Linked DNA regions of Homo sapiens: region 2 is linked to region 1. Evidence: fine-mapped expression QTL. A gene starts in region 1. The other region holds a variant in brackets. All regions are shown on one strand. Distances are between the middles of the regions.

Region 1 (5,000 bases):
CCTCAGCCTCCCAAGTAGCTGAGATTACAGCCGTGCACCACCACACCCAGCTAACATCCTTCCCATTTCTAAGGTCTGATTTGCTTTCTCCTCCCAAGCTCCTAGTTGCTCAGTTAAGTAACTTCAGCAGGTTCCATTCATAAAATAAAATTTAGATTAGCTGAGGGAGATGTCTAACAAAGAACACTGAGCACTTTTTCCTCATTTTCTCTCATTCCCCACGAGCACTCACCATGGCCACAACCGGCCCTGAGTTCATGTACTTCACCAGCCCAGGGAAGAATGGTCGGTCTTTCAGGTCAATGTAGTGCTGCTTCAGGTGTTCTTCAGAGGCCTGGCATTGGAGAGGAGGCACCAGTTAGGAGCTAAGCTGGAAAGACTCCAACCCATCCTCTGAACCTCCCATTAGCAAGTCCGGTTTTATATTCTAGCCCACGTTCCTAAGTGGTGTGTGGAAATATATATATATATACACACATATACACACACATAAATATTTTTTAAATCCCATCCAAACCATGAAACTAATGCCATTTTAACAGAAAGACTGTTCTTTTTTTGGTGTGTTGTTTTGGTTTGTTTTAGGAGACAGGGTCTCACTATCATCACCCAGGCTGGAATGCAGTGGCACAATGATGGCTCACTGCAGCCTCAACTTCCAGGGCTCAAGTGATTTTCCTACCTCAGCCTCCCAAGTAGCTGGAACTACAGATGCACTCAACCATGCCCAATTAATTTTTATTTATTTATTTATTTATTTGTAGAGACAGGGGCTTGCTATGTGGCTCAGGCTGATCTCCAACTCCTGGGCTCCACCCACCTCGGCCTCCCAAATTGCTGGGATTATAGGCGTGAGCCCCGCGCCTGGCCAAGACTGTTCTAATCGTAAAGACACCCTCATACCGTCAATGACATTAGGGGTTTTGTAAGCCTAAAAAGTAGGTGGTTTGAGGATCTAGATTTAGGGAATTAAATTTTGGCTGCAACTGAAGTACATATGTCAGGTCATCTGCCTGGCAGAGGTCATGTTAAACTCCCCTGGGCTACTCACAATGCCCTTTTAAATATTTCAGATAATAACTGAGAACATTCTCTTCACCGATGAGCCTGGTTGAATTTCAGTACTTAGATTCTTACCCGTAAGTGTAGGGATTCAGATCTGTGCCCCAAATTTAATGTGGAAAATACACTCACTACCCTATGCTAAAGGAGGAGCACCGCACTGGAACTCGGAGTTTCAGACTAAAGCAAAGGAGATTCCAAGCCTCCATTCTGTGCCTAGGTGGACCCGAGTGGGCAGGCGCAGGGGGTCTGGGGCCCGGGGTTTTTCCGCTCCCTGCTGCCCCCCTGCGGCGGGTGGGCAGGTAGCGGCCCGCGGGAAGGAACCCAAACCCGGAGGGCGAGTCACGCTACCAGCGCTTCACCTTCCCAAGGGCGTCTGTCCCCACCACCCCGGGAAAGGGTCGGCGGGCCCAAGCCGCCGTGGGCGGGGGCAGAGGGCAAAGGGATTTCGCGGCAGCGAAATGAACTCGGAAAGCAGACGCGGACAAACCGCCGCCGGGAGGGAAAAACACCCGCGAGCCGGCTGCAGCGGGGAAGGGGAGACGGGGGCGAGTTACCCGGAGGAACTTCATGGCCACGAGGCGGAATCCCTTCTGCTCGAAGCGCTTGATGATCTCGCCCACCAGGCCGCGCTGCACGCCGTCCGGCTTGATGGCGATGAAGGTGCGCTCCAGGTTGGCCATGGTCCTGCGGGGCGAGAGGTGCGGTCAGGGCCCGGGCGCAGGCTCTGGCGGGGCCCGCGGAGGCCACGTGGGCGCCGCCGGTCCCTCCTCCCCCACCACGCGCGGCCGCGGGGACACGTGGCTTCCCGGCCGCTTCCGCCCCGCGCAGGGCCGGCGTCCCTCTGCGGAGCCCGAAGGCCCGCGGGGCGCAAGCTGCAAGGGAATCTCCCGCTCCGACGCCGCGCGGGACCTGCGGGAAATCGGGGGGCGCCCACAGACCGGGCCCACCTGCGGCAGCGCAAGCGGAAGAGGGAACGGGAGGAGTCGCCAGGGGATGCGCCCCCACCGCCTTACCGGGAAGCTGGAGGGGCCGGGCGGCGGCGCTGCGCTGGGAGAGCAGAGAGCTGGTGCGACCACCACACCCGGGAGCCGGCGGCGGAGGAGGGGCGCAGGGCGGAGCGCGGGGTGGCCACACCCCGGAGGGCCCAGCCGCCCAACCCGCAGGAACGCCCCACCCGCCCGGCCCGACGCGGCCGGAGAACAGTGTCCACGCCCAGCCGGGGCGCGCCCTCGCCAGGCAGAGATCGAGACGGATCCAGAGACAGGAAGTGATTCCTTCTCCACCTGGACGTCCTATGAGTTCAACTACGCACGTCCCAAATCCCACTCCTCACCTCTCAGTACTTCCCGTGACCCCAAAAGCTCCTACACACACACACACACACACACACACACAGAACCTGCTCCTGTGCTCGAGTTCTCTACCCCGGTCAAGGCCATCTGCTGCTTTCACCATCCGCCCGAGCACCGGCATTAACCTTGACTTGGCTCTCCCTCCCCGTCGTGCACCCACGGTCCTTATCCTCCCTACCTCTGAAATCCAGCCTTCCCTCCCCTCTGCTTGAGCCCTGGTTAAGCCTCGGCCTCCCAAGGGGCCTCGATCTCACCTCTCCGCGCAAACCGGGAGCTTTGCTCAGCACCTCAAACGGCCATCTGGTCCTGCCTCTGCCCTGCCTTGATGACTCCCCCGCCTACAGGATGGCGTTCAGACTCCTTAGCGGGATGCTCTTCTCGCAGGATGCCCTGCTCCCTGGCTGCCGCCTCCCCACCTACATTTCCAGCCCCAATCAGCCGCCCCACTCCCACCCTGACATGGGGATCCCTGCCCACCTGGCACTAAAGTGCGGTCGAGTTTTCCAGTTCACCCTGAGGTGCGCCCCTGGACCCTGAGGAAAGTCTAGACCCTGTCATAGAGATTAGGCCTGTCATCGACCTGTAGACACTTCCTACTTGCAGTGTCCCTGGCAAACAAGCTCCCTTTGGTGATGCCCAGCTTCCCTGGGGCGGTCACAAGCCCCTCCTCTCGGCGCCTGCAGCACTGACTGACAGCCGCACAGCAGTGGTACTGCCCTGAGATGGTGAGAGCCCGCTTGCTTCCCCTCAGGACTCTGAGCTGACCACAGCAATCATGCCATCACCCGAGTGCCCCTAGCACTGCGCTGATCACCTGTCACTGGCCAGATGGATGACAATCTGGCCTCTGTTATACCTTATCGGCTTTCCAAACTTCTAGTTACAGAGCATTAGCCCACCACACATTGACAATGACTGTCATGTGCCCTCATCTGGGGGCACTGTTATTTTTTGGCTTCGATCTGAAACACACTCTCATTTGGATTACCAAATGTCAACTGTGAAAACAGGTCTCGAAATTGCACGGACTTTTCTCTGTCCAGGGGAGAGCTATCTGCTCCCCTTGGTCAGGTCACTGATGGCTACTCAGGGTACAGTCAGGACCACCCCTCTGCTTTCACCTCTTCTTTCCTTCCTGGGAAGACTGTCCTTAACTGGGGAGGCTGTAACCCTCCAGCTTCACTACACACATGTTCATTCCCCCAAGTCCTGGTATGCTCATCTCACGCCCCAAAACAAACAGGCCACGCTTTGTGTAAAAGTATTAATAGAAATTCAGGCTGGATGCGGTAGCTCACGCCTGTAATCCCAGCACTTTGAGAGGCCGAGGCGGGTGGATCACGAGGTCAGGAGTTCGAGACAAGCCTGACCAACGTGGTGAAACCCCGTCCCCAAGAAAAATACAAAAATTAGCCGGGCGTAGTGGCGCATGCCTGTAATCCCAGCTACTCAGGAGGCTGAGGCAGGAGAATCGCTTGAACCCCGGAAGCAGAGGTTGCAGTGAGCTGAGATCGTGCCACTGCACTCCAGCCTGGGCAACAGATTGAGATTCCATCTCAAAAATTAAAAAAAAAAAAAAAGGGGGCCAGGTGCGGTGGCTCACACCTGTAATCCCAGCACTTTGGGAGGCCAAGGCAGGCAGATCACGAGGTCAGGAGATCGAGACCATCCTGGCTAACACAGTGAAACCCAATGTCTACTAAAAATACAAAAAAATTAGCTGGGCATGGTGGCGGGCACCTGTAGTCCCAGCTACTCAGGAGGCTGAGGCAGGAGAATGGCGTGAACCCGGGAGGCAGAGCTTGCAGTGAGCCGAGATTGCACCACTGCATTCCCGCCTGGGTGACAGAGCAAGACTCTGTCTCAAAAAAAAAAAAAAAAAAAAAAACTAAATTAAAAAAAAAAATTCATCTCGCCATCATCTGTCTGTAAAGGCAGCCCACCCCAACTACCCTCTTCTCCCCCATCCTGAGAAGTCTCTTCCCCTCTATTGCCTCTACCGAAGCCAGATGAAAAGGAAAGATAAGAAAAACCCTCAGGTGGCCAGTCGCAGTGGCTCACACCTGTAATCCCAGCACTTTGGGAGCCTGAGGCAGGTGGATCATCTGAGGTGAGAAGTTCGAGACCAGCCTGGCCAACATGGTGAAAACCTGTCTCTACTAAAAATACAAAAAATAGCCGGGAGTGGTGGCACACACCTGTAATCCCAGCTACTCAGGAGGCTGAGACAGGAGAATCGCTTGAACCCGGGAGGCGGAGGTTGCAGTTAGCCGAGATCGCACCATTATACTCCAGCCTGGGCGACAAGAGCGAGACTTTGTCTCAAAAAAAAAAGGAAAAAGAAAAAAGAAAAACCCTCAGGGTGGGCGCAGTGGCTCACGCCTATAATCTCAGCACTTTGGGAGGCCCAGGCAGGCAGATCGCTTGAGCCCAGCAGTTGGAGACCAGCCTGGGAAACATGATGAAACCCCATCTCTACAGAAAATACAAAAATTAGTTGGGCGTGGTGGCACGTGCCTGTAGCCCCAGTTACTCAGGAGGCTAAGATAGGAGATCACTTGGGCCCAGAGAGGTCGAGGCTGC
Region 2 (5,521 bases), 85 kb before region 1:
CTACTCCTAAGGTCTTTCTTAGTGCACATAAAAACAAACATACATATATTGATCTGTGTATATGCCAGTGTATATTGTCTCTTTGAATAAAAAGTGAGTCATATTGTGATATATTTTATTATACTATATATTGTGATTTATTTTTTCCACTCAGTATTTTACCTGTTGCTCATGATTCCCCTGCTGATTGTAAGTTTGTCTCCAGTTTTTCATTATTATTACATTAGCAAACATCCTTCTACATAGGTTCTTGTGTCCTTGTATGTATTATGTATGAGTATTTCTGAAGGACAGATTCCTAAAAATGGAATTACCTAGTCAAAAGGCATAGCCATTTTAAGTTTTCATATGTAATGTCAAATTGCCTTCCGGAAAGATAGTGTAAGGTTACCTTCCTACCAAGTGTATATGAGCACTGTTTTTCCCACATGTATTTACTGATACCAGATATCATCAATCTCTCAATATATACCAACTTAATTTTTTAATGTACTGTATACTTCATATAAATTAGCTTTTATTTTTATCAAAGTAATACATGCACTTGATAGTACAATAATTAAACAATGCTAAAAGTATTCCAAAAAAAATGGTCCTTGTCCCAATTCAGCTCTGATGAGACAACTGCTTTCATTCTTTTAGCTTTCTCATCTAGTATCTATCTCTCTAATTCTAAAGCTTAGGCTTATATTATTTATTTAGTATATGAATTTTAGACATTAGTGACTTTATAGTGGACAGGGAGTTAGAACATACACCCAAATATAAAGCAAGGTTTACCTACCTACAATCATTCCATCTCCCTACATTCAAGACCTTAGTCATCTAATATGATTTGCAGTTTTTTGGGGTTTTGTTTTGTTGTTTTGTTTTTTTTTGAGACAGAGTCTCACTCTGTCGCCCAGACTGGAGTGCAGTAGCTCAATCTTGGCTCTCTGCAACCTTCGCCTCCCGGGTTCAAGTGATTCTTCTGCCTCAGCCTCCCTGGTAGCTGGACTACAGGTGCCACCACCACACATGGCTGATTTTTGTATTTTTAGTAGAGATGGGGTTTTACCATATTGGCCAGGCTGGTCTGGAACTCCTGGTGGATTACTCCTCAAGTAATCCACCCACCCTTGGTCTCCCAAAGTGCTAGGATTACAGGTGTGAGCCACTGCACCTGGCCTCGGTTTTATTTTGAAGAGCAAAATGTTCATGAAGGCACGTTACCTGAAACATATTTATTTGATGCTTGTTTTGTATGCTTACAGAGGCTAGCTGACAGAACCAGTATTGGGGAGGGGGGAGAAAGAAGGTTAAAATTTAAAACGTTTTAAGATAGTCCCATGATTCATATTATTAGTGTTCATGGTGGTTATATGATCTTGGGCAAGTTGCTTAGCCTATTTGGGCCACTGCTTCCTCCTGTAAAATGAGAGTGACACTCATAAGGTTTAAATGCGCTGCTACAGATTTAAGTGCTGAATATGCCTGACACATACTAAGCATATTACAAATATTATAATAATAACCAAATCAGATCAGTAACAAAAATAGTCCAACATGGTTGGGTGCAGTGGCTCATGCCTGTAATCCCAACACTTTGGGAGGCCGAAGTGGGCCAATCACTTGAGGCCAGGAGTTCGAGATCAGCCTGGCCAACATGGCGAAACCCTGTCTCTACCAAAAATACAAAAATTACCCAGGTGTTGTGGCACACACTGTAATCCCAGCTTCTCGGGAGACTGAGGCATGAGAATCGCTTGAACCTGGGAGGCAGAGGTTACAATAAGCCAAGATCATGCCACTGCACTGCAGCTTGAATGACAGAGCAAGTCCAATATTAGGTTATTGTAGAATTTACAAATAAACTCCTATAGGACGAAATGTGTTTAAGAGTTCAACTCACAAATTTAGTTTATTTCTCTGCCTATAAATAGAGATTTGTAGATTCTTATAGGTAGAGAAATAAACCAAATTCCAACTGCTCCTTATGATCATTCCTCTAGGTGTTAAGAGTGAGAGAGGGAAGGCTTGACAAATTTACTGAAAGAGGTATGGGAGTGTGAAAGCTTTAGACAAGGTACAAAGATCCACTCTCAGAAAGAGAAAATCTGAAAAAAGCTCCAAAACATTGATCATAGGTTTGGAGTTTGATAGTTCACAGCTCTATGTATGGAGAAGAGCTTAAAGGTAAGCAGTACCAGAATTGGTAGCTTTAAATTATAAGCATTGCCTCATAAGGGAAACATGAAGACTTGGAGACATGTCAGTGAAGACTTGGAAACATGGCAGTGAAGAAGAAGAAAGAAGAAAAAATTCTTCAGGAAAAGAAAAAAACTGAACTTAGAGAAGAGGGTGTT[C/G]TTGAAGTAGGAGCTCTGCCTATGAAATGAACAGAAATAGAAAAGAGCAGGCCACATCCATACAGAACTGTAAGAAAAAACAAACAGGAAATGTGAATCAGCATTTCAACTGATGAAAATCTACCCCCATCAAAAAAAGCAGGAAAAAATTGACACAATGCTCCAAGTGAAATTAAACATCCTCAAACCAATGTTTGGAGATTTGAAAAATAAAATTAAGAAATATTCTGAAACAAATACAAAGAACAAAAAGCATTAAGAAATGAACACAAAGTAGATTAAACAGAAAAATAGAAGATAAAATCATAACCAATAATGAAGTTTTAACATTCCCACATTTCAAATTCAAATTTAATAAAAAGTCTTGAAGAAAAGCAGGAAAACAGGATAATTGAGATGAGATTTTTGTTTTGAAAATTGACCAAGTTGAAATGGGAGATGGATCCAAAGTCTACTGTATATAATTGGTGTCCTTCAAGAAGAGAAAATATTTAAAACTATAATCCAAGAAAACTTTCTGGAAGTGAAAAGAGATCTGAATCTATACCACAGAAGTTCATACCAGAAGGCACACTCAAAGATATTTCCTAGTAAAGCTGTATGACTGTAAAGATGCAAAGAATTCTCAGGGTCTCCAGGCAAAGACGTGACATAGAGGCAAGAGAATTAGACCAGTGTCAGATTTCTCAAAAGCAACATAACAAAGCAAGACAGTGGAGCAGCATGAGGAAAGTGACTGCTAGCCAAGGATTTTATATCCAGCTAACTGTTGTCCAGGTATTAGGGCTGCAGAACAACAGTTTGAACATGCAGGAACTCAGGGAATACTGTACTCGTTTACCCCTCCTGAGGACACTCGAAAAGGATGACTTTCATCTAAAAGATATTTGGGACATTTCCTACAAAAAGACTGTGACAATAAGTATTTCAGATATCTTTTTGAACTAAGATTAAAACCAATAGTAGGGACCTAGAGAATAGTACATAAACATTATACATTCTGACAAAGCAGAAAGAATGCAACTAAAATATAATGGGATGGAAAATAAAAGGAAAAACTAAGGCCATGTGTGGTGGCTCACACCTGTAATCCCAGCACTTTGGGAGGCTTAGGTGGGTGGATTACTTGAGCCCAGGACTTCTAGACCAGCCTGGGCAACATAGTGAGACCCAGTCTCTACAAAAAAAAAAAAAAAAGTGTTTAATTAGCCAGGCATGGTGGCTCATGCCTGTAGTCCCAACTACTCAGGAGGCTGAAGTAGGAGGATCATTTGAGCCCAGGAGGTCAAGGCTGCAGAGAGCTGTGTTTGCCTAACTGCACTCCAGCCTGGGCAACAGAATGAGACCCTGTCTAGAACTGTTCTTTTTCAGAACTAGAATAAGAATAATTACTGTAATTGAAGTAATATGAGGGAGTCAGAGGCTACCATCTAAAACTGAAAGACCAAATAGAAAAGATTAGGTAAGAAAAAAAATACAGTGTACTGTAAAAGCTATTAATATAAAGGTAAGCGTGACGAAGACTTTCCAAAATACTGAGAGAAATTTTTAAAGGGACAAAGAAAACCATGATGGAACAGAAAAAAAAGTATACAGTACATAATGCATACCCTAATGATAAAATATGTGGAGAATTGAGAGCAAACATAAAGGCCAGGACAAATATGTACCAGGCAAATAGAAACCCCAAGAATACAAGACTGAAAATGCTGATAGCAAAGTAGAATTCAAACCAAAAAAAGCATTAAATCAGACAAAAGAGAACAGTTTATAATGCTAAAAACCATGATTCACAACAAAGAATTCACAGTTAAATATGTACCACATAACACAGCAACAATCTGTATAAAGCAAAATCTATATGAAGTATAAGAAGAAATAAAAAACTAAAATTAGGGGACTTTGACACTTAGCACAAGATGTAGTGGGTAAAAAAGGATATAAAAGATCTAAATAATATAATGTGAATCTTCAAGTATATCCCTAATAATCAAGAATATACTGCTTCCCCCCACCCCCAACTCTGTCTCCCAGGCTGCAGTACAGTGGCATGATCACGGCTCACTGCAGCCTTGACCTCCCTGCCTCAGGTGATCCTCCCACCTCAGCCTCCCAAGTAGCTGAGACCACAGGTGCACACCACCATGCCCAGCTAATTTTTTTTTTTTTTTTGCTTATTGTAGAGACGAAGTCTCGCCATGTTGCCCAGGCTAGTCTCAAACTCTTGGGCTCAAGCAGTCTTCCTGCCTTGGCCTCCCATAGTGCTGGGATTATAGGTGTGAGCCACCATGCGGGGCCAGAGAGTATGTTCTTTTTAAACACAGAATATTCACAAAAAATTGTCAATCTATTAGAAAAACATTAGTAGGTCCCATACAAGAAAACAAAAACAAATTCAAAAAGCAAAAGGACATTGCACTTCCGTCTTGAAGTTAAGAAACCTTGTATTATGTATTCACAGAAAACCTTGTACAAGAATTTTCGTGGCAGCTTTATTCATAGTAAAATCTGGATGAAGAAAGGGTAAGCTGATACATTGACGAGTATTACTCAGCAATAAAAAGAAACCATTTATACATGTAACATGAATGAATCTCAGAAACACTATGCTGACTGGAAGAAATTAGACACAAAAATATGCATACGATTTTATGCCATTTATATAAAATCTTAAATATATACAAAATTTAGCCAAAGCTAATAGAACTCAGGACTGGGGAGAGATTGAGTGGGAAAGGACAGGAAGGAGCTTTCTAGAGTGACAGAAAAGTCCTATATTTTGATAAGTGTTCAACAGTATGCCTTAATTTTTAAAAGTTTAATGGGTAAAAGGGAAACACAAATTGCAAAGTTTCTGGAAAATGATGATAAGAAAAGTACTACATAATACTACATACCAGAATCTGTGGAATACATTTAAAGCAGTGAGCAGAGGAAAATTCATAGCCCTAAACACTTACATAAATGAAAATAAATTCCCAATTCAGAAATGAACAAAGTAAGCCAAAAGCACAAGGAAGGAAATAAAGATAAAAGTAGAAGTTAATGAGTTAACAGAAGAACTATACGTCTAGTTGATGAACCAATCTTGGACCCTTGAGGGAAGAGTCACATAATAGATGAATCACTAGCTAATTTAACCAAGTGGGGAAAGGGAGAAAGCACACATGAAATTT

The links. PIP is the estimated chance that this variant, and not a neighbour inherited with it, causes the effect. A credible set is the group of variants that fine-mapping cannot tell apart.
Region 2: its variant is the best candidate, but not a certain one, in a credible set for the expression of NME2 in whole blood (INTERVAL, PIP 0.70).

Annotation. Positions count from the first base shown.
Region 1 is chr17:51,163,576-51,168,575 of GRCh38, reverse strand. It overlaps NME2 (NME/NM23 nucleoside diphosphate kinase 2), which reads right to left and starts at 2,165. Exons shown (of 5, transcript NM_002512.4): 1 at 2,079-2,165; 2 at 1,620-1,749; 3 at 233-334. The coding sequence starts at 1,745. NME1-NME2 (NME1-NME2 readthrough) reads right to left here. Exons shown (of 9, transcript NR_037149.2): 6 at 1,620-1,749; 7 at 233-334. RefSeq lists silencers at 1,235-1,434, 1,695-2,324 and an enhancer at 1,604-2,212.
Region 2 is chr17:51,248,091-51,253,611 of GRCh38, reverse strand. All of the region lies in intron 2 of MBTD1 (mbt domain containing 1), which reads left to right. Among named protein-coding and RNA genes, the nearest start is that of MBTD1, 9.2 kb to the left of the region's middle. The variant C/G (reference allele first, on the strand shown) is at 2,346.